Linked DNA regions of Homo sapiens: regions 2 and 3 are each linked to region 1. The links come from fine-mapping of genetic effects on plasma protein levels. Region 1 holds a variant in brackets. A gene starts in each other region. All regions are shown on their reverse strands.

Region 1 (8,188 bases):
AAATAAAAAATAATAAAAAATAAATAAAACAATAAATCATGGTATGTCTTTTGACAGGTAGAATGCATGGGCTTGGGAGTAAAGTGAGAGTTTAATGAACAGCATCTATCACTAACTTTACAGATGACACACTTGGGAGATGTGCACATCCTGTGACTGCACTTTTAGGTGACCCTGGGTTAGAAGATCTGCCTGGTAAGAAACCACTACCAGGGAACAACACAAAAATTACTCTGTACCTAAAATGATGATGTAGCTGGTTTTCCTTGGGTTTCCTCATTACAGTACATCAGCAGGTAAGGAGAAAGATATCATACTGGCCTGGGTAATTTTCTTTAACGATGAGGAGGAGGATTTGGTGAAGAGAGGGTGGTTGGGCAGCTTAGATAATTCACTGTGGCAGTGATGAATTCTCCATAGCTGGAGGTAACCATGACTGGGGTTGGGGTTTGCACTGTGTCTCCAAAAAGGTATGTTGACATCCTAACCTCCCGTAGCTGTGAATATGAACTTATTTGGAAATAGGATCTTTGCAGGTATAATTAGTTAAGATGTGGTCATGCTGGCTTCGGGCAGGATCTAAATCCAATATTGCTCACATCTTTATAAGACATGAAGAAGACACACAGAGAAGAATAGGATGCCATGTGAAGATGGAGGCAGAGATTAGAATGAGAAGTCTGTAAACCAAGGAATGCCAAGAAATGCCAGCAAGGACCAAAGTCTAAGAAAAAGGCACAAAAGTGGCCGGGCGTGGTGGCTCATGCCTGTAATCCCAGCACTTTGGGAGGCCGAGGCGGGCAGATCATGAGGTCAGGAGATCGAGACCATCCTGGCTAACATGGTGAAACCCCGTCTCTACTAAAAATACAAAAAAATTATCCGGGTGTGGTGGCGGGCACCTGTAGTCCCAGCTACTGGGGAGGCTGAGGCAGGAGAATGGCATGAACCCGGGAGGCGGAGCTTGCAGTGAGCCGAGATCGCGCTACTGCAGTCCAGCCTGGGAGACAGAGCGAGATTCCATCTAAAAAAAAAAAAAAGAAAGAAAGAAAGAAGGAAAAAGCACAGAAGTTTCTTCTTCAGAGCCTCTAGAAAGAAGAAATTATATGAACATTTTGATTTTTTATTTCTGGCCTGCAGAACTCTGAGAGAATAAGTTTATCTTCTTTTTATTCAATACTTTGTGATAATTTGTTATATCAGCCTCCAAGAAACTAACACAATGGGCAACTCCCACAAGAAAGCCTGAAACAGGCACAATAATCAGGTGCTCAGATGCCTCAAGGTTGAAATTTATGTTTATTTCATTGGGCCGATAGTTGAGACAAGTAGAGTTTCTCATGCGAACTCTGGCAGAAGGTAAGCAGAACCTAGAGAGGGTGATAGACAGCAAAGCTGGTAAATATAAAGGATGACCTCGGGGTCAATTACAACAGAGAACACTGTACTTCTCCCCATTCACACCCATATGCTTTGTTTGCCTCATTTGTAGATAAATGTGTCCAGTGTGTTGTTGCTTTGGCAGCACATATACCAAAATCGGAATGATACAGAGAAGATCAGCATGGCAGCTGCACAAGGATATTAACAAATTTCATGAAGCATTTTATATATATATATATTTTTTTAATGTGTCCAGCAAAGACCTGGAAGAAGTTATAGTGTGAAAAGACATGAACATGAAGTTCATGGGGCTATGAGCAGGGCAAAGTGTGGACTGCAACAGACAGGACAGACCCTGGTGATGCCCCATCGATGTTGCCTGGATCATGTCTTTTTTTTTTTTTTTTTTTTTTTTGAGACAGGCAGAGTTTTGCTCTTGTTGCCCAGGCTAGAGTCCAATTTTTGAGATGGAGTCTCACTCCGTCACCAGGCTGGAGTGCAGTGGCGCAATCTCGGCTCACTGCAACCTCCGTCTGCCGGGTTCAACTGATTCTCCTGCCTCAGCCTCCTGAGTAGCTGGGACTACAGGCGTGCACCACCACACTGGGCTAATTTTTGTATAATAGTGTGAGTTAATACTTAATAAACACTCGTATATATATATATATACACACACACATATATATATGGTGTATATACATATATATGTATGTGTATATATACACACATATATATACACACACATATATATACACACATGCATATATATACACACATATATGATTTTATATATATATATGTATACACACACACACACACCAGGCTAATTTTTGTATAATAGTGTGTTAATACTTAATAAACACCCATATAGATATGGTGTATATACATATATATGTATGGTATATATATGTAGGGTATATATATACACACATATACACACACATATATACACACAAACATATATGTACACACATATATATACACACACATATATATACACACATATATGTACACACACATATATTTTTTGATATGTGTACATATATATACACCAGATACGATTATATATATATACACACAAACATATATATACACACATATATATACACAGAAACATATATATACACACATATATACACACAAACATATATATACACACACATATATATACACACACATATATACACACACATATATACATACACATATATACATACACATATATATACACACAAACATATATACACACACATATATATACACACATATATACACACACATATATACATACACATATATATACACACATATATACATATATATTTTTTGATATGTGTATATATACACACATATATATACCCCAGATATGATTTTATATATATACACACATATATATACACACATATATATAAACAAACATATATATACACACACATATATATACACACAAACATATATACACACACATATATACACACACATATACACACACATATATATACACACAAACATATATGCACACACATATATACACACACATATACACACACATATACACACACATATATACACACACATATATACACACACATATACATATATATTTTTGACATGTGTATATATACACACATATATATACACCAGATACGATTTTACACACACACACACACACATATATACGCCATTAGTTGTGTCCCTCTAGAGAACCCTAATACACAGCGTGTCACACTAGCGCAGGCACAGGCCATCACTCTTGTGAACACCCAAGGCACCGTTTCCACTTCAGCTCGGTCCCTGAGGGTCAGGATGCATCTGCCACTGGGAAAGGTGGATCGAGTGGCTCTAGGCAGCTTGGCACGACAGGGTAGTGTAGAGCAACAGCTCAGCCTGGGGATGGCAGGCCACCAGGCAAGGCTGGCTCAGCAGTGACAATCCCTCAGCAGTGAAAGGATGCTGCGGCTACGTGTCCCCCAGAGATCCAGAAGTAGATCCCATTCCACAATGGCATAGTGCCAGAGCCGTGATGGCCGTGGACAGTGGGGCACAGTGTCAGTCTTTTCTCCTGGGTGAGTGCAGCTGTGTGGAATCTGGGTAGCTCCGTCAGCTGTGCTTAGTGTCTGTGAAAGGGAATCTCCAATGGTGAGATCTACAGGTGTCCAAAGTGTTGATGGAAGCTGCTAGGTCTTTTTCTCAGCTTTTTCCAGCAAGGAGAAGTCCCTCTTTATTCCAAGCTGATCCTGACTGAAGGATGGGGTGATAGAGGTGCAGTGCTACTTTCATTTATTACGTGGCCATCCTGTGATTTTTAATGAAATGGCTAAAATGGCAGACATAGAATTCAGAATCTGGATGCCAAACTAAGATCACTGAGGTTCAGAAGAAAGTTGAAACCCAATCCAAGGGATATAAGGAACCCAGTAAAATGACACCAGAGGTGGAAGATGAAATAGACATTTTAAGAAAGAAAGAAACTGATTTTATAGAGCTGAAAAACTCATTACAAAAATTGCATAATATAATAAAAAGTAGTAACGGCAAAATAGACCAAGGTGAGAAGAAAATCTCAGAGCTCAAAGACTGCTTCTATGGCCAGGCGTGGTGACTCACGCCTGTAATCCCAGCACTTCGGGAAGCTGAGGCGGGCGGATCAACTGAGGTCAGGAGTTCGAGACCAACCTGACCAACATGGTGAAACCCCATCTCTACTAAAAATACAAAATTTGCCGGACGTGGTGGTGCATGCCTGTAATCCCAGTTACTAGGGAGGCTGAGGCAGGAGAATTGCTTGAACCCATGAGGTGGAGGTTGCAGTGAGTCAAGATTGTGCCATTGCACTCCAGCCTGGGCAACAAGAGCGAAACTCCATCTCAGAAAACAAAAATAAAAACAAAATTAAAAAAGACTGCTTCTGTGAATCAACGCAGTCAGACAAAAATAAAAAAAATAGAATTTAAAAGAATGAACAAAACCTCTGAGAATTATGGGATTATGGAAAGAGACAAAACCTATGACCCATTGGCATCCCTGAGTAAGAAAGGAAGCAAGCAACTTGAGAAACATATTTGAGAATATTATCAATAAAAATTTCCCCAACCGCACTAGAGAGCCAACATTCACATTTAGGAAACTCAGAACACCCCAGTGAGATACTATACAACAAAACCATCCACAAACAACATACTCATCAACTTCTCCAAGATCAACGTGAAAGAAAATTATTCATGGCAGCTAGAGAGAATAGGCCAGTCATCCAAAAGACGTACCTCATCAGGCTAACAGTGAACCTTTCAGCATAACCCTAAAAGTCAGAAGATATTAAAGATATTAGGGTATATTTTCAGCATTCTTTTTTTTTTTTTTTTGAGACAGAGTCTCGCTCTGTCACCCAGGCTGGAGTCACCCAAGCAGCGACTGTGTGCTTGGGGAAGGGAGAAGGCAGGACTGAACTCAATGCTGCCCTGTCACACTGGAAAGCCACACTGGGCTGATTGCAACTGATGCCCGTTCATGGAGAAAGCATTTGATGAGCTCTACCCAAAGGGGAACTGCCCAGAAAATCAGTTGGAACTTGAGATTCAGCAAGTCCCACCTGAGACCTCAGGCTAAAGTGCTCTGGGTTTGTTTTTTTGTTTTGTTTTGGTTTTAGATGGAGTCTCGCTCTGTCATCCCAGGCTGGAGTGCAGTGGTGCAATCTCGGCTCACTGCAACCCCTGCCTCCCAGATTCAAGCGATTCTACTGCCTCAGCCTCCCAAGTAGCTGGGACTACAGGCACGTGCCACCATGCCCAGTTAATTTTTGTATTTTTAGTAGAGATGGGATTTGGCCATATTGGCCAGGCTGGTCTCAAACTCCTGACCTCATGATCTGCCCGCCTCAGCCTCCCAAAGTGCTGAGATTACAGGTGTGAGTGACTGCGCCTGGTCTGGGGTCTTAAACAAGCTTGAAAGAGTCTAGGCCACAAGTACTGTGATTCCTGGGAAAATCCTAGTGCTGTGCTGAGTTTGGAGCCAGTGAATTTAGAGAAATCAGCAAACGTAGCTAAGGGTGTACTTGTTTCATCC[T/C]TCCCACTACCCAAGGCAGCACAACTTGTAGCAACAAAAGTGATTCCTTCCTTCTGATTGAAGAGAGGAGAGGGAAGAATAAAGAGGACTTTGTCTTTTATCTTGGATACCCACTCAGCCACAGTAAGATAGGGCAACAGGCAGAGTCCTGAGGTCCCCATCCCAGATGCTAGCTCCTGGACAACATTTTTCCACATACCCTAGGCCAGAAGGGAAATTGCTGCCTTGTGGGGAAGGATTTAGTCCTGGCAGAATTCATCACTTGCTAACTGAAGAGCTCTCAGGCCCTGAATAACCAGCAGCAATATACAGGTACTATGTCGTGGGCCTTAGGTGAGACTCTGAGACTTGCTGGCTTCAAGTGAGACTCAGCACCTTCCCAGCCATGTTGACTGTGGGGTGAGAAAAGTGGAAGAAAAAGTAAAAGGGACTTTGTATTGCACCTTAGGTACCAGCTCAACAACAGGGGATAGAGTGCCAAGTAGGCTCTCAGGTCCTCAATTCAAGGACTTTGCTCTTAGAGATCATTTCTGGACCTGCCCTGGGCCTGGGCAGAGCCCAGTGTCATGACGGATGAATAGCAGGCCAGGAAGCCTTCACCACAAGCTGACTGAAGATCCCTTAGGGCTTAAGAGAACACTGGCAGTTCTCCCTGTAAGCCTGTTGTGGCAGTGGTCATGGCATGAGGCTCCTTTGCCTTAAGAAAGGGGAGGGATGAGTAGGAAGGACAGTATCTTGTGGCTTGAGTGCCAGGTCAGCTGCAGTGCAATAGAACGCCGGGTGGACTTCAAGGATTTTATTTATTTATTTATTTATTATTATTATTATTATTATTTTGAGATGGAGTTTCACTCTTGTCACCCAGGCTGGAGTGCAATGGCTTGATCTCGTCTCACCACAACCTCCGCCTCCCGGGTTCAAGCAATTCTCCTGCCTCAGCCTCCTAAGTAGCTGGGATTACAGGCATGCACCACCACGCCCAGCTAATTTTTTTGTATTTTTAGTAGAAACGGGGTTTCTCCATGTTGGTCAGGCTGGTCTCAAACTCCCGACCTCAGGTGATCCGCCCGCCTCAGCCTCCCAAAGTGCTGGGATTACAGGCGTGAGGCACCACGCACGGCGGCGGAATCTGTTAAACACAAAAACGGGAGAGGTGGCCCCATGCTGATCATGGACTTCAGTCAGTGGGCAGAGATATCCCAGCTCCTGTCCACAAGCACGAGCAAGGGTGAACCACAGCTTTTCTTTTCCTTTTTTTTTTTTCTTTTTTTGAGACGGAGTCTCACTCTGTCCCCCAGGCTAGAGTGCAGTGGCGCGATCTCAGCTCACTGCAAGCTCTGCCTCCCAGGTTCACACCATTTTCCTGCCTCAGCCTCCCAAGTAGCCGGGACTACAGGCGCCCGCCACCACGCCCGCTTAATTTTTTCTATTTTTTTTTTTTTAAGTAGAGACGGGTTTTCACCGTGTTAGCCAGGATGGTCTCGATCTCCTGACCTCGTGATCTGCCCATCTCAGCCTCCCAAAGTGCTGGGATTATAGGCGTGAGCCACCGCGCCGGGCCGGGCCACAGCTTTTCATCTTCATCTGGAGCCCCTACCCCCTCCCTTTCCATGAGGACCTGGGGTTCCTCTTCTGTCCCACACAGAAGTGGAAATTTCCTCCCTAATGACCCTGGGACAGTCTTAGACACAAGCAGGCTGTCAGCTTTCAAGTTTGTTCTTTGATGTGCAACCTTCTCAAATTAAAGAACTTTTCATTTCTTTTTCTGCACAAAACTTTCATAATCTACATATTTCGGATGTATAATCTACATATTTCAGATGTGTGTATGTGTGTGTGTGTGTATATATATATATATATATATATATATATATGTATGTTTTGAGACAGGGTCGTGCTCTCTCACCCAGGCTGGAGTGCAGTGCTATGATCATACCTCACTACAGCCTGGACCACCCAGGCTCAAGCAATCTTCCCACCTCAGTGTCCCAAATAGTTGGGACTGCAGTCGTGCACAAACATACCTGATTATTTCTTCTTTGTTATATGCAGAGACGGGGTCTCACTATGTTCCCCAAGCTGGTCTTGAACTTCTGAGCTCAAGGGATCCTCCATCCTCAGCCTCCCTAGGTGCTCAGATTACAGGGGTGGGCCACCGTGCCGGGAACTTCAAACATAAGGAGCATTTCTTGGTATTTGGAGCAGATGTGGGCTCTTGAGTTGGGGCATCAATCATCCTCCTCTACTACGGAGCTCAATGCCAGGATCCTCTCACACCCCAACCACTCCTGTCTTAATCTGGTCTGGAAATTCACCATGGCCAAGCCCCCTCCCATGTCCCAGGCACCACTGAGCCCCACATCCACTCTGAGAAGCTGAGGTCATGACCACAAGTTCCAAAAGAGAAAGGCTCAAGCAAGCCACTTTGCTGTCCAAGGTCACATAATCGGTGGAATTAGGAAGAAAATTCAGCTCCCCACTCCACCCCATGAATCAGATGACAAACCTGAGTAATTGTTCTGAAAACCTTGAACATGGTTGGAGGCACAGAGGGACGGCCAAGGACAAAGGGGCACTGAGGAGGCAGGAACGACTTAGAGGTTCATTCCCAGCGGAGGGGTTTTGTTGCTCTGCCCTAGCCCTTGGTGAGCTGAGTATAGGTCAGGCCGACAGCGGCTAGGGCTCAGGGAGACCCCATTTCTGTCTGAAATGTCTGCAGAGAGCCTGGAGCTCACCCCAGCCC
Region 2 (8,188 bases), not on the chromosome of region 1:
GCTGCGAACACCCCCAGACGGGCGGCTGCGGGAGGGGAGGCTGGACCAAGGGGCCTGGTCCACCGGACCAGCGGTGGCGGCATCGGCATCTCGCCTCCTTCAGGCCTGCACGCGCCACAGGCCGCAGCCTGGACCAACCCCGCGTCCCCGGGCCGTGAGCGCTGCGGTCCCGGCCCCCCAGAGCGGGACGCCGGGCGGCCGCAGCCCCCCGGACCCGGCTCTCCGCCCGCTCCGCCCGCAGTCCCGGCGCGGAGAGCGGCCGCCCGAGCCGCTGCCGCGGCAGCGCGGGTGTCGGCGACGGAGCCCGGGGCGGGGAAGAGCGGAGGAAGGGGCGGCGAGGGGGCGGGCCGGCGGCGGCCAGGGAGGTCGGAGTGCGCGGGGCTCGGCACCCCCTCGGCCCGCGCTGCGCCAGCACCACCTGCGGAGCTGCGGTGCCCACGCCGTGCCGCGACCCCGCCGCCCCTGCTCCCTCCACACGCGGGCAAACAAAACAAGTTGCCGGTCGCTGCCGCCGGAGGGGGCCGGGCGGGTCACTCACCCTCATCCTGCTCAGCGGGCTTGGGTCGTCCGGCCGCGGGGTCAGGGAAGACCAGAGGACCACTAGCCCCAGGAAGCTTCCCACCACCAGCAAACTGCGTAAGATGAACCCAATCTTCAGCCTCATCTTCCTCCGGCGGCGAGAGACTCACAGCCCGGCGCAGCCGCCGCCACCGCTCTCCCCTCCCTCCTTCCCCCTCCTCCGGCTCTCCTCCCCCTCTTTCCCCCACCCCTACCGCTACGGCTGCCGCCCTCTCCGCTGCCTGCCCTTTCCAGCTCCAGATCCGGAACTCCCCTCGGCTACACCTTTCCCCGGGCTCTTCCCTCCGCTCCTCCCCGTGGCCCCCTCCCCTCTGGCGGCCACCGCAGAGCTCCGACTGACCCGTGTGCCTCGCTCTGCCAGGCTGCCTTCCTCTCTACCTGCCCCCTTCCAGATCCGCAGTCCCCTGCTCTCCACGCGAGCCCCCTTCACAGTCCCTGCTACCTTGTAACTAACTTGCACTTTTCCCGAGTCCGGTTCTTAGCCTTTGCCCTGCAGCTCAGCTCCTTAAAGCTTTCAGATCCCCAAACTTTTATTGTAATTATGGACAATAACTCCGTCCTTAACGCCTGTGCCCTCCGGGATCCCGTGGCCCGCCGCCCCCTCCGTTGGACCTGGAGTCGCTCTCGTCTGCACCTCTCCCTTAGACCCACTTCCCTGAGCCCCTTGTCGAGAGGCTTTCAGGAAGCCAACCAGGAAGTGGGACTACCGCTGCTGCTGCAGCAGCTCCACGTGGCTGATTTATAGCTGAAGGGTTTTTTTTTTTCCTTCTTATTGATTGTTCTTGCTTTTTCACACGGCTCCTTAAGGTGGTGAATTTGTAACCGAAAGGCCCAGGTGAGATGTGCAAATATCACTGGATTGGAGGAGCTCACTTGGAAAGCCAGTATTCCTCCTGAGCTAATGAAAAGAAAGGCTGTCGTCTTATGCCAAAAGCAATACCAACCTTGTTCACGGGCTGGTAAGTTTCAAATCCAAGGACCACGGATTTCAACTCCACCCTCATTGCGTCCCTCAGATCTGATATTTGCCACTTGATTTCTGCTTTTCAAACGCCTTTTCTGCCTGTGTTACCTAAATTACACAGTAAAGGATATTGGCAAGTGTTTAGCCAAATGCCCCACCCTGAGGAAATAATTTTTCTGCCCATATCTCCCAATAAAGATGTCTATGCCTTTATAGCAGAATGTATGTAATTACATTATCAGTGTACTATATCCTAAACTGCTAATTTAAATTTAAGTCGAACAAAACGTTTTAAGATTTTATCCTAAGTTTTTTGGGGTTTTTTTTCTTTTCTTTTTTTTTTTTTTTTTTTTTTTTTTTTTTTTTTTTTTTTGAGACGGAGTCTCTCACTCTGTCACCCAGGCTGGAGTAGAGTGCAGTGGTGCGATCTTGGCTCACCTCAACCTCCACCTCTCGGGTTCAAGCAATTCTCCTGCCTCAGCCTCCCCCGTAGCTGGGACTACAAGTGCACACCGCCACGCCCAGCTAATTTTTTTTTTTTTTGTATTTTAGTAGAGACGAGGTTTCACGGTGTTGCCCAGGCTGGTCTCGAACTCCTGAGCTCAGGCAATCTGCCTCGTACTCCCAAAGTGCTAGGATTACAGCTGTGAGCCACCACACCTAGGCTATCCTAAGTTTTAAGATGGTAACAGCTGATTCTTTTTTCTCGTACTGTCTCACATCTGCAAGTTTTTTGCTTTAAAACAAAGCTCAGTTATGTAAAGTTTTACAGTGAAACAATTTCAATTATCAAGATAGATAAAGAATTATACCAAACTACCTTCATGTGCTTTTTGGCTTGGCTTACAATAGCTAGTATATCAGGGAGTTCTGTAGATGCCATAATTTCAAAATTTCCACAAAATATCTGAAGTGATATCCTCATGAACAGCATGGTTCCGGAAATGTAGAATGGATTGTAGTTAGGTGTATTATTGGTTGGCTGAAGGACTGTACATCATATTGTATAAAAGTCCACTATATAGAGTACCTGGAAGAGGGACTGTCAAGTGTTAAACACAAATCACTGCTTGACTTAGCATTTATATCAGCCCCTTAGGTTAAAACCAGTTGTTTTAAGTAGAAGATGAGAGATTTTGCCTAAGACCATTTTTTTTGTGTGACAGAGATCTAGAGTGTGTAATTCACGAAGTATGAATCTGCTGGGTAATGTGATATGAAAAGCGAATGCACCATTTCTTGGTGATGATTCAGGTCAGCGTTGGGACCCAGGAATCTCCTGTTAATCAGTACCCTGGTGATTTTGATCCAGGTAATCTGGGCACCACCTTTGGAGAAACACTGAAAGGAAGCAAGGTTGCGGGGGGTGGTTGGGAAAAGTCTTATATGGATATCTTTGGAAGACAGAAATAGGCTCATTTATGGACTCAACTTGAACTGTTCAGAAGTGAGGTGGACTCCTTTTCTTTTTTATTTATTTTTTTTTTGAGTTGAGGTCTTGCTCTGTCACCCAGGCTGGAGTGCAGTGGCACATCCATAGCTCACTGCAGCCTGGAACTCCTGGGCTCAAGTGATCTTCCCACCTCAACCTCCCGAGTAGCTAGGACCACATGTGTGAGTCATCATGCCCAGCTAATTTTTTTTTTATTTTTTGTAGAGACGGGGTCTATTATCTGGTCCTGTTGTCAAGGCTGGTCTCAAACTCCTGGCCTCCAGCGATCCTCCCTTTTTGGCCTCCCAAGATGCTGGTATTACAGGCATGAGCCACCATGGTCCACCCGGACTCCTTTTCATAGGAGACAGTTCCCTAGGCAGAGACTGGGCTTGAAACAGGTAACTTACAAGGCATCCTGTGATCATAAGAGAATAATTCCATTTGAAATCAGCAGCTGAAGTCCACCTGAATAATTAAGTCTTTCACTTGTGTTATTTTCACAGGGGAGACAGTTTTTTATTCTTAAGAAGGTAGGAAGCTTTATTTTTACTGTTATGAGCATAGCTGGGCAAGTATGCAAATGGAAAGTGATACCTATCATCAAAGTATTGAGGATGGTCCTTTGAAGGCCCTAGTATTCTGAGAACATCCTGCCACCACTACCACCCCCCAACTTTAGTTTTACACAGAGAACTTAAAATATGTGTGAAAGAGTATATAGTTATACAGTTGTATATTGATGAATAGGTATATAGTTGTAAAAGTTTATGTTTCTCTGAGTCTTAATAACTTTTAAAAGAAACTGCAAGTAAACTAACACAGGAACAGAAAACGAAATATTGCATGTTCTCACTTATAAGTGGGAGCTAAATGATGAGAACACATGGACACATAGAGGGGAACAACACACACTGGGGCCTATTGGAGGGTGGAGGGTGGGAGGAGGGAGAGGATCAGGAAAAATAACTAATGTGGGTACTAGGCTTAATACCTGGGTGATGAAATAATCTGTACAAACCCCCATAACACAAGTTTACCTATGTACCAAACCTGCACATGTACCCCTGAACTTAAAAGTTTAAAAAAAGTGCAAATATACCTTAAAACATATGCCCATTGCAGTATTTGCTGGGAGGCAGCCTTTGTAGGGTTGACAGAACTCGTTTAGAAAATGAGGAGCTACATTCAAAGCTTCAGTCAAGATAAATCACGTACCTCTCTGAACCTAGGGCTTTTATCTGCCAAATAGTGATTACAATACTCAACCTTATGATGTTCTCAAAAGGAATAATTGAGATCAAGTACATATACAAATATAAAGTACAATTAGTGTAATGGAACAAGTCTCAGGTGCGTGTGGCTATAATTCTTGTTTTATGAATGCTGCAGTTCCTCTAAAGAAGAGGGTAGAGACTAGAACTGAATGAGATGGACATAGAGATGGCCAAGAAAAGCATCGTCCTCTGCCAAGTCATGGGGTCATGTGTGGTGGATGGTGACATGGTGTCCTCAGCTCAGAGTCCAGCTGGGGGCTCAGAAGCAAGGTAACTGAAGGGAGAGAATTATTTGAGCACCTAGTGTGTGTAAGATGCTTCACATTTATTATTTCACCTAACCTCTACACAACCTGTTGTGGGTATTACTGGTCTCAAGCTGGGATTCAAAGCAGGTTTTTCCAACCTCAGAATTCTTGCCAGACTGATTAGCCTTCTGCATCTGGAACATAAATGTTTTCAGGCAGCATAATGTGCAAGAGGTCAGAGCCTAAAGCTTTGTTATTTTTTAATTTCTCCACCATGTCAACTCTGTTACAGGGAAGCCCAGCAGAGGGAATTGTATCCATTTTGGGGCTACACTACCCCAATGCTATGCTGCAGCCAAGCTGAACTTCTAAGTTTCTAAATGTAACTCACTTACCTTCAGGCCTTTGTACGGGGAGTTCTTTTTGCCTGAAATACCTTCTGACATCTTAACATTACGCTTAGATGTCAGTTACAAAAAAGCTTTTTCTAGACTCTCTCACATGTCCCACTCCACACCCCTATATCTCTTCCCACCAATGTACTAGGGTAGGTATCCTGCTAGGTACTTCCACTGCACCCTCTACTTTTCTTCCCTAATGATTACCACTATATTGTAATTGCTTAATTTCTTTTTCCTATACCCAGATAAAAATGTGTATGAAGGTGGAGCCTTGTCTATCTAGTTCGTTATTGTTATCCGTGTCTGGTATGTGGAAAGGGCTCAGTGAGTATTTCTTGATGGAATGCTGAATGAATAATGGGATTGAAAATATAAAAGGCAGACAAAACTTAGAAGAGGGGCCAGGTTTACTTCAATTGCTATTCCTCCTCACTGGGAGGTTTTTCTTCCAAGGACAAAACTTTGGAGGTTTTATTAAATTAGAAAAGTGATTATTTTACATATGGTCATCATCATCAATTGATAGGCTGTTGTTTCCCCCTTACTCAGCATCCTACTAAGGCTGCTTAGAACTAAGAAGAAAGGGTAATTTTAATTTAAGTTCATATTTTTGTATGTACGGAGATTTAAAAAAAACAGCTACATTAAAATGGGAATATGTAGCCATAGGGAATTATTTGCAAACAAATTTCAGTATTATCTATGTGTGGTTGCCAAGAACTCAGGTTAAATTAGAGTCAGTGACCTCTAAATGACTAAATATCCTATCACCTATTCTATAAGCCATTTAATCACCTCTTTTCAAAGAAGAAGAGCACAATTGGTAGTATCTTTAAAGGAAGATACATTTTATTGTTTAGAAAATAACTACTATTTAGATATCAAGGGAAGCATAGTGTAAGTTTGTTAAGAATTTATTAATTTTGTGTACTGTTCATTAGTTACCTCTTACTGCTTAACAAATGACTCCAAAGTTTAGCACTTTCAAACAACAAACATTTACTTCACACAGTTCCTGAAGTCAGGAATCTAAGAGTGGCTTAACAAGGTGGTCTGGCTCAGGGTCTCTCATGAGGTTCTTACCAAACTATCAGCTGGGACCACTATCATAACCAACTGGGCCTGGAGAATTTGCTGTCAAGTTCACCCACATGGCCAGCAGGCAGGCCTCAGTTCCTCACTGGCAGGCGGTGGGAGGCTTCAGTTCCTTGTCACCTGGGCTTCTCCACAGGGCTACTCATGACATGCCAAGCTGACTTCCCCCCTTCATGAAAGATCTGAGGGAGAGAGAGCCCAAGGCAGAATCCACAGTCTTGTATAAGAAATAATCTGTATACTGCCTTCATCTGTAAAATGAAGGTGTTGGACCAAATGATCTTTAACATTCTTTCCAATACTGAAATTCTGAGATTTTCCTATGATGCCGATGTGTGATTGAGACTAATTTGTGCTTTCATGTGGAATACTATGAGGTAAAATCCTGCCTTTGTACTTTTTTTCTGACATGGGGTACTATTTCTATCATAAGCTTGAGATGGATAATTCCTGAGTTGTGCTCATCTGGAATAAAGGACTGTTGTCAAGGGCTTCCATTTAATGAGGTTAAGGGTCTCCTACAGTGTTTGGAAAGCAAAAATATTTATGTAAAAGCCCTCAGATTTCACATCGTAGAACACTACCTCTTCATAATTTGGTACTGTTTTTGGACTCCCATAATTCAGAAGTGCTCTTCTGATCTAACCATTTATTTAAGAGGTGATTGAAACGGATTTTGTCTCTTACCACTCTTGTTTAAAACCTCTTCAACAGCTTCCCATTGCTCTTATATTTAAGCCCAAATTCCTCCATTTATTACAAAGCCTTTGTGAGCTTGCCTCTGCTTACCTCTGCAGCCCCATGGCTGGTCAGTTATCCCCTCTTTTGCAACTTAAACTATAGCCATGTTGATTTTCTCTCCATTTCTGAAATAGGCTAACTTCCCTCTCACTTCTAGACCTTGTGTGTGTTATTCTCTCGCTTAGAACACTCTGTGGTTCTTACACCAACCCCTCTCCCATGAACTCCCTGATAATCCTTCAGATTTCAATTTATACATCAGTTCTTTCAGAAACCTCTAATTGTCTTCAGTCCCCGATCCCACTGCTAGGTTAGAAGACCCTCCTTCATGCTCTCAAAGCACCCTGTAAGTTCTCCCTCAGAGCATATAGACCAAGTTTCTTTTCTTTTCTTTTCTTTTCTTTTCTTTTCTTTTTTTTTTTTAGACGTAGTCTTGCTCTGTTGCCAGGCTGGAGTGCAGTGGCCCCATCTCAGCTCACTGCAACCTCTACCTCCCGGGTTCAAGCGATTCTCCTGCCTCAGCCTCCCGAGTAGCTGGGACTATAGGCATGCGCCACCACCCATCTAATTTTTGTATTTTCAGTGGAGATGGTGTTTCACCGTGTTGGCCAGGATGGTCTCAATCTCTTGAACTCATGATCCGCCCGCCTTGGCCTCCCAAAGTGCTGGGATTACAGGCATGAGCCACCGCGCCTGGCCTAGACCAAGTTCCTTAAGGGCAAGGACCATGTTCGAATTTGGCATTGTGTCTCTAGATGTTGACCATGCTTGGCACAGAAGAGATGCTCAGTATTAAGAGACTGAACAAGTGAAAATATATTTCCTGTGTTCACTGTTAAGCGTGGGGAAAAAGGAGTTGCATAAGTAAAAATACTAATTTAAAAGCCCTCAGATTTCACAGTGTGGAACACCACCTCTTCATAATTTGGTACTGTTTTTGGACTTCTATAATTCGGTAGTCTTCTTATTTAAGAAGCATTCTTTAATAGCTCTTAAAATATGATAATATCTAAATGATTTGCAGAAGCATTTTATAGGTAGATGGTTTTGCCTTTATTTGGGTGTTGGGGAAGAAGGGTACAGTATTCTACATTTTACCTGACCAAAAAGAGTACTGTAATTCCTAGATAATAAACTGATAGCTATTTGAAACTGCCTGTTGGCTCACTGAAGGGAAAATGCATTGCCCACAACCTCATATCTTTCATGTGGGAACCCAGTACCTATAAGACAAACTGGCCTCTCTCTGTTACTATTGATAATCTCTTAGAGCATAACTTCTAAATAATGGGTGGAATGGAAAGGAACTCTGTCAGTGAAAGGGCTAGAGAACCTGCCCTGCTATATGCAGATTAAGAGATTTGGCTAGACTCAAATTTCTAATTTCCTTTAAAATGCTCAAATTTCTTAAAACTAGGGTATGAAATGCACTGAAGAAAGACTCAGGTTCT
Region 3 (8,188 bases), not on the chromosome of region 1:
ATAAAAAGAGAAAAAGAAGGCTATTATATAATAACAAAGAAGTTAAATCACCACAAAGACATAACTATTGTAAATATACACCCACCTAAAATCAGAGCACCTAAATACATAAAGCAATTACTAAATGATCTAAAGGAAAAAATATAATTTAATAATATTACAGTAGGGCTCTCCATATTCCATTTTCAGTAATGGACAGATCATCTAGAGAGAAAATCCATAAAGAAACTATGGACTTGCATTACACTTTAGAGTAAATAGACCAAACAGAAATATACAGAACACTGTATCCAATAGCAACAAAATACACATCCTTCTTAAGTGCACATAGAACATTCTCCAGGATAGCCCATATGTTAATGCACAAAACAAATCTTAACAAATTTAAGAGAATTGAAATCATATCAAGTATCTTTTGAGATCACAATGGAATGAAACCAGAAATCAGTAACAGGAGATATCTTGGAAAATACACAAATGTGTGGAAATGAAACAACATGCTCCTAAACAACCAATAGGTTAAAGAAGAAAGCAAATAGAAAATAAAAAATTACCATGAGACAAAAGAAAATGGTAAGACAATGTATCAAAACTTATGGGAGACAGCAAAAGCAATCCTAAGAGGGAAATTCATAGCAATGAACACCTATATAAAAAAAGAAAGGTTACAAATAATCTAACATTACCACTCAAGAAACTAGAAAAATAAGTATAAACTAAGCCCAATGATAGCAGAAGAGGGGAAATAACAAAAATCAGCACAGAAATAAATGAAATAGAGACTAGAAAAACAATAGAAAATATCAACAAAACTAAGTTGGTTTTTTGAAAAGATAAAGTTGACAAACCCATAGCTAGACTAACTAGGAAAACAAGAGCCTACTCAAACAAGATTAGAAAAGAAAGAGGAGACATTACAATATACATTGCCTATATCTACTATAATAGACATATATACACACACAAATCAATATGTGATATACCACATTAATCAAGGATAAAAATCATATAATGATTTCAATACATGCAGAAAAAACATTTGAAAAATCCCAACATCCTTTTATAATAAAACTCTTAACAAGGCCAGGCGCGGTGGCTCACACCTGTAGTCCCAGCACTTTGGGAGGCCAAGACGGGCAGATGGCGAGGTCAGGAGATTGAGACCATCCTGGCTAACACAGTGAAACCCTGTCTACTAAAAATACAAAAAAATTAGCCTGGTGTAGTGGTGGGCGCCTGTAGTCCCAGCTACTCTGGAGGCTGAGGCAGGAGAATGGCGTGAACCTGGGAGGTGGAGCTTGCAGTAAGCTGAGATCACGCCACTGCACTCCAGCCTGGGAAACTGAGCAAGACTCCATCTCAAAAAAAAAAAAACAAAAACAACAACAAAAAAAACTCTTAACAAATTGGGTATAGGTATAGAGGGAATGTACCTCAACACAATAAAGGCTACATATGACAAACCCTTAGCTAATATCATTCTCAACAGTAAAACACTGAAAGCTTTTCCTCTAAGATCAGTGACAAGACAAGTATGCCTACTCTCACCACTTCTTTTCAATATAGTACCGTAAGTCCCAGCTAAAGCAATTAGGCAAGAGGAAAAATTTGAAGCCTAATAGGAAATGAAGAAGTGAAAATATCCCTATTTTCTATGACATGATCTTATATATGAATCCACCAAAAAACTATTAGAACTGATAAATTAACAGTAAAGTTACAGAATACAAAATCAACATATAAAAGTCAGCAGCATTTTTATATAGTAATAACAAATTAAAATGAAATTAACAAGACCATCCCCTTTAAAATAGTAACAAAAAATTAAATACTTAGGTGTAAATTTAATGAGCAGGTAAAAGGCCTGTACACTGAAAACTATAAAACACATAAAAATACAAGTAAATAAGAAAATACAAGCAAATGGAAAGATATCTCATGTTCATGGATTGGAAGAATTAAAATTGGGAACATGTCTATATGACTGACCTACGGCAATATACAGATTCATTGTAATCTCTACAAAATTCCAGTGTCACTTTTTTCACATAAATGTAAAAAAATCCTTAAATTTGTATGAAACCACAAAAGACCCCACATACCTAAAACAATCTTGAGAAAAAAAATCAAAGTTGAAGCCATCATACTCTGATTTCAAGACATATTATAATTATAGTAATTTAATCAAACTAGCATGGTACTGGCATAAAATTACGGGCATTGACCAATGCACTAGGATAGAAGGCCCAAAAATAAACCAATACATATACTGTCAATTGATTTTTGACAAAGGTGCCAAGAACACACAATGGGGAAAGGGCATCTTCTTCAATAAACAGTGTTGGAAAATCTGGAAATTAGACCCTTATCTCTCACCATGAACAAAAATCAACTAAAGTGAATTAAGCAGTTAAATATGAGACCTGAAACTGTAAAATTACTAGAAGAAAACACATGGGAAAAACTTTATGACATTGGTCATTTACATTTAATATTTTACTATTACAAAAAGATGCTCCAAAGAGCATACTTACACATATTTTTTTTGTTCACATGAGCACGCATTAATCTAGGTACACACTTATATCCAGAATGTACTGGGTTACAGAACATTTAGATCTTCACCTTTACCAGATATTGCTTAATTTTTCTCAAAAATAGTTATAATAATTACAATTCCACAAGAAATGCAGAGAACTGTCATTTTACTACATCCTTGACTTATTATCAAAGGCTTACATTTTTGTCAATTTACAGAAACCTGCTTCCAAAGATGGAGGAAGCTGGGAGACCAAAGAGGCTGACCAATCGAATTTCTCAGAAAGAAATACTTAGTAGAGACAAACAGAAGCGACCCCTGCACTTGCCCTCCAGAAAGTATGCTTTATTTAGCAAGCCTCTAGGGTAAAGACAAGTGCAACTAGTTAGCTCTTAGACTATTGTGATCACTGGGGACGTTAGATAAGCATCTTTATGAGGGGTTATATATGTTATGAGCATTGTTTAAAGACCTTTGCTGCAGAACACCTCGGTATGCTGTGGGTCAAACATCAGTCCCCAGGATAGTTTTGCTTCAAGATGGTGTCACTCTTGCCAGGAAACAGGCTGTTTTTCTACACAGTCTAATGGATGTGACATATTATCTTGCATTTTTCTGATGACTACAGAAAGTTTGGTTTGCTTTTCACATTCTTTTTCCATTTTTCTATTGTGTCATTTTTCTTATTATTTCTTCGCATATTTTAGAAATACTTTATATTTTATAACTATATTTTCCAAGTTTGTGCTTTAACTTTAATTTTCTTATATAGTCAATTTTTAATTAACATTTTTATTTTTAATGTTTTATGAAACTCTTCCAACAGCCTAAGTTAGGAAGATATATTTATATATTTTCTTATCAAAGTATAATATTTTGCTTTCGTATTTACATATGCACTTCACCTCGAGTTTATTTTTGTGTGTAACGCCGGGTAAAAAATTTTTCCTATGTGGATAGTCAATTATTCTGGCACCACAAGTTCATATTTACAAGGCTACTTGTCTATTTAATCATGCTCAAAACCAGCTCGGCCCTTTCATGTCTTTCATCACATCCTTTGTTGCTTACCTCTCACCACACCCTTCTACAGAAGCGTTATTTTCTTGTTAAACCAGACTATTCACTGCATTTACTCTTCTTGCAACATGCTAAAATTGTTCCTGTTGTCTCTACGAGTCACGCTTTCTGCCTTTTTTCCTTACTGAATTTAAACCTCTTGTGAAAAAGACTGTCCAATTTACGTTTTCACCCTTAATACTGAGCATTGATGTAGCAGGTTTTCAAATATTCTTGTTTTATGCTGAATTTCAGTTGGCCCTTATAGATGGAAACTTTCACTGAGTACAAGCTATATATCCATGTATTTAGGAACAATCAACAGTTTTAACGAATAGGAACCAGTCATCTTTTCTGCCCCGGTGGATAGGCTTAGTGGTGGTCGGTGGATGGCGCTGACCGCGGTTGATCAGAGGAAGCTGACGCCGTTTGCAGGCGTGGCCTGGGCGTGCCCGCTTCAAAGTAGACGCCCGGAGTTGGCCCAGTTCTGACCCTAGTGATGCGCCTGTGCGTGTGTTCCTATCGCCGTCCCGTCTTCACTTCCTACAGATGCCGCGACCCCCCAAATAGCAAGTGTGGACATTCACATTCAGGGGCACAGGCTGTCCGTACAGCGAACGTTGTCACCATTCCCGGAGATAGGGCCCCGACCTTCAAGGGGGCGGTGCGGTTGGCGCGCAGTTCTCAGGCGCCTTCTAGAATCCCCTGCCAGCCTCCCCGCTGCCTGGTTACCAAACTCGGCCGGGGACACCCAACCTCCCCTCTCGAGGACCTGGGTTGGCCAGCCCAGCTTTGTACGGGTGACTGAAGTCCACATCGACGTAACAGTTGAAAGGGAAGGACGCGGAGACCACCCGGTACCCGCCCCAGGCGTTTCCAGAGTCTCCGCTTAGGCGGCCCGTGGGGGTCGGGGTCGCGGTCGCGGTCGCGGACCGGGGACAGAGCAATGGGGCGGGCGCGCAGCGCCGGCTGCACTCCCAGAGCCTCCCACCGCCGCCCCACGGCCGCCTAGCGCGCGCCGGGACTGCATTTCCCATAGGCCCACGCTGCGGAGCACCGCCCACCCGAGTCTCACGCGAGTGCGCTGCCGCGAGGTGTCCCTGCCGCAGCCCCCGCCCGCCCGCAGAGCTTTTGAAAGGCGGCGGGAGGCGGCGAGCGCCATGGCCAGTCCGGGCTGCCTGCTGTGCGTGCTGGGCCTGCTACTCTGCGGGGCGGCGAGCCTCGAGCTGTCTAGACCCCACGGCGACACCGCCAAGAAGCCCATCATCGGTAAGGAGGCTGTGCGGGGCCGCAGCAGACGGGGAGGAGCTGGGTGTTGGCGCTGGGCGCCTCCCGCCGCCGCGCTCCAGCTGGCGCGTCCCGCCGGGAAAAACCCCCAGATGTGCTTCGCTTTTGGTGCAAGGAGGAACCCGGGCTGGGCACCATTTAGGTCGTACTGAAATGTACCTGGTTGAGGTACCTCGTTCATTCCTTTAGACTCATATGACTCTTAAAGGTGGGAGGGAGGAGGGTGCACCATGAAGAATCCTGCGGATTTTCTTTTTTTGTACACAGCTAGGAATTTCTACTAAAATAAAACATTTCCTTTTCGCACATAGTTGGGAAGTTTTACTCATTTACATCTACAAATTCTGTACATGCATTGCATTCATCAAAATGTATTGATGGCGTATTTAAAATACCAGTGCATTGTAATAGAAAATCAAGAAATTAAGGTATAACTTGGATTTTGTCATGTTCAGTAGCAGAGGACAACAGTGGCTGATATCCTAATGTGAGTTCTATTTGGTGTTAAAATGCAGCCCACAATTTTTCGTTTCCAACATATTTGTGTTTTAAAGAGGTAGTAAAATCAGTCTGTGTTACCAAAACACACATTTGAGACAGGCCCAAGGAAAGCTACCTAGGAGAAATCATCCTGGGGTTAAAATTTGCCCAAAGAAATTTGTGTGTGGACATTAAGATTAGTTTTATTTTGGCTGTAGGATTATGCCTTTCATACTATTTTTTTCTATGAATATTATCACTGTATTCTGTAACTAAACAGAAAGTAGATGAATGTTTTTTCATATAGGTAGTGCCCAGTTTTCAAATGGGTTGCTTACTAATATTTGGAACTTATTTCATAGCTGTTTAACATGGTGATTTGATTCTCCACGAATTAACTCAAGCTGTAATTAATGTAACAGGTTGCATATTGTGTGTCCAGAGAAGAGAAAAAAAAGCAGAGGGGATTCTTCCCCTTTCCTAGAATCAGGGGTAGCCCTGCGTCAAATATTTAAAAAAGGGACTTTGCTTTTGGTCACTGAGATCAGCACAACATCGTTAACTGAGTACCGACTATGTACACAATCTTGCTCTGGGAAGTGCAAAGGATTGAAAGATGACAAGCCACAAAAGTTGTGAGATGGCCTTAAATTATTGGTGGAATTTTGGTCATATTTTGAGGGACAGGGAGAACAGCTTGAGCTCTTTTCCCAGGGATGGGAAAAGTGAATATGCGTGGGCCCAGGGGAAGGGGAGATGTTGGTGGAACTCACTCTGATGTACTTCTCTTTCTGGTACCCTTGTGCTCCCATGATGCCCCATGTCTCCTTTGTGGTACCTCACCCCATGTACCCTGTACCACTCCATTTCCTATGACACTCCTAGTTCTTCGTTCCCTAGCCAAACTTTGTTATTCCTTAGTGAAGATGATCTTACCTACCAGTAAGGAGAAAAAGTTTTACTGAACAAATTTTGGCGTTTGACATGTTAATCTGAATACCTGATGAATGCCAATTGTAAGAAGCTGGGAATACAAAAGTGAGTAATACAGACAACAGCTCTTCCTATCAGGTGGCCTACAGAGACACTGAAAGTGTTCCAAATGCTGAAGTGCTGAATAGGAGTAGGCACAGGTACTCACCCGACAGACGTGTTTTGATGTATACTGGTTGCTATACTCTGCTGGGGCTGGGTTTCACTGGTAAAAGGAGGCCAGAGAGATGGGTGGGGCAGAGCATACGGGTCTTACAGAGTTTATTAAAGTTTAGGGACCCACTGAGGTAGTTAAACAAAGTGGTGACACCTGCTTGCTGATCTATCGCTACCTGATGTCCTTTCCTATTGCTTTCTGCTTTCACTCACCTGGCTCTAATAATATGGATTCCTTGCAACGTGACAGGCACAAATCTGACTCCTGGCCTTTGCACTTGCTATTCCTTTGTCCTGGATTGCTCTTTTCCCAGATATATGAATGTGGTTTACTCTGTCACCTCTCTGAAGTCCTGGCTCAAATGTCATGTTTTACCTTCTCAGGGAGGACTTGCCTGGCCACCGTGTTGAAGAGACTGTCCTTTCCTACATAGATGGGCTCTCCTTCCCCACCGTCTTTCTCTCCTTAGTGCTTACGACCAGCCATCACTCTATATATTATGCCTTTTTGTCTTGTTTATTGTTTGTCCTCTTTCCCCTCCCTGCTACACCCTCGAATTAATGCACACAGGGCAGGGGCTTTTGTTTGGTTCACTCATAGTCATGTGTCCCCAGCAGCTAGTTTGTTGCCTGGCATGAGGTATGATTCAACAGTATATATTGAATGACTGTAGGAATAGGAATGGTGATATGATCCGATTTGCTTCTACATGGGGAGCTGCTTGGAGCTTGGGGGGGTTTCTTAAGAAAAGATATAACAAGACCTTCTAAGAGTCTATTATGATAGTGTGGTGGGGAGAGGGTAGATATTGATAGCTTGGGCTAAGGTAATGTTGGAGAGGTGTGGATGGAAGATGTTTTCACTCCTTTGCTTCGTTGTCAGGGAATCAGTGTGTCTGTGAGTATGTGTGGGAAAGGAGTGACAGCCTTGTAAATTTAAGGATCTATATTCTTTAGATGGATTCTAGGTCTACAGTTGTGTGAAGGCTGCAAGTGCTATTGTAAGCCTTCTTTGGGGGCTTATTTGGCCTCCCTAATGAGGTGAGAGATAGATCTACTTGAAAGTAAGATCAGCCTCCCCTGCTGCTTTCCCATAGGCTATGGGTGGACTTGGAGGAGAGACTTCCTATTTAATTCTGTGGATTGAAATAATAAAATATGATATTTTTGCTGTGATATATTTCAGTTTCTGAGCAAGAAGAAAAGGAATTTGCTTGAAACTAAACTTTTTTTTGTTATTAGGAATATTAATGCAAAAATGCCGTAATAAAGTCATGAAAAACTATGGAAGATACTATATTGCTGCGTCCTATGTAAAGTACTTGGAGTCTGCAGGTGCGAGAGTTGTACCAGTAAGGTATGATTCAGTGTTTTTTTTTTTTTTTTACTCTGTATAAAAAATTGCTGCGTACGGGTGCGGTGCCTCATGCCTGTAATTCTAGCACTTTGGGAGGCCAAGGCGGGTGGACTACTGAGGTCAGGAGTTCGAGACCAGCCAGGCCAACCTGGTGAAGCCCTGTCTCTACTAAAAATACAAAAATTAGCTGGGTGCAGTAGTGCACTCCTGTAATCCCAGCTACTGGGGAGGCTGAGGCAGGAGAATCGCTTGAACCAGGGAGGTGGAGGTTGCAGTGAGTTGAGATCGCACCACTGCACTCCAGTTTGGGCAACAGA

Which allele goes with the higher level. Positions count from the first base shown, and alleles are read on the strand shown. Strength reflects both the effect of a copy and how common the allele is.
For the plasma level of the protein whose gene starts at base 689 in region 2, allele C in region 1 goes with a lower level than allele T (strong association).
For the plasma level of the protein whose gene starts at base 4,721 in region 3, allele C in region 1 goes with a lower level than allele T (strong association).

Evidence for each region. PIP is the posterior inclusion probability: the model's chance that the variant is causal. The UK Biobank Pharma Proteomics Project read protein levels with antibody pairs (Olink). The fine-mapping took linkage between variants from a reference panel, not from the people measured, so its PIPs are less certain.
Region 2: it holds the start of GALNT7, and the variant in region 1 is fine-mapped to the plasma level of the GALNT7 protein (UK Biobank, PIP above 0.99).
Region 3: it holds the start of GGH, and the variant in region 1 is fine-mapped to the plasma level of the GGH protein (UK Biobank, PIP above 0.99).

What each region holds. Positions count from the first base shown.
Region 1 is chr19:54,257,379-54,265,566 of GRCh38, reverse strand. It overlaps the pseudogene RNU6-1307P. Among named protein-coding and RNA genes, the nearest start is that of LILRB5, 4.2 kb to the right of the region's middle. The variant T/C (reference allele first, on the strand shown) is at 5,446.
Region 2 is chr4:173,161,312-173,169,499 of GRCh38, reverse strand. GALNT7 (polypeptide N-acetylgalactosaminyltransferase 7) reads right to left here and starts at 689. Exons shown (of 12, transcript NM_017423.3): 1 at 539-689. The coding sequence starts at 664. GALNT7-DT (GALNT7 divergent transcript) reads left to right here. Exons shown (of 7, transcript NR_134242.1): 1 at 1-636; 2 at 1,387-1,538; 3 at 2,710-2,855; 4 at 3,201-3,376; 5 at 4,368-4,522; 6 at 5,147-5,207. RefSeq lists silencers at 1-540, 771-890, 961-1,010 and enhancers at 1,321-1,420, 3,499-3,578.
Region 3 is chr8:63,035,339-63,043,526 of GRCh38, reverse strand. It overlaps GGH (gamma-glutamyl hydrolase), which reads left to right and starts at 4,721. Exons shown (of 9, transcript NM_003878.3): 1 at 4,721-4,867; 2 at 7,757-7,871. The coding sequence starts at 4,759. RefSeq lists a silencer at 4,328-4,687.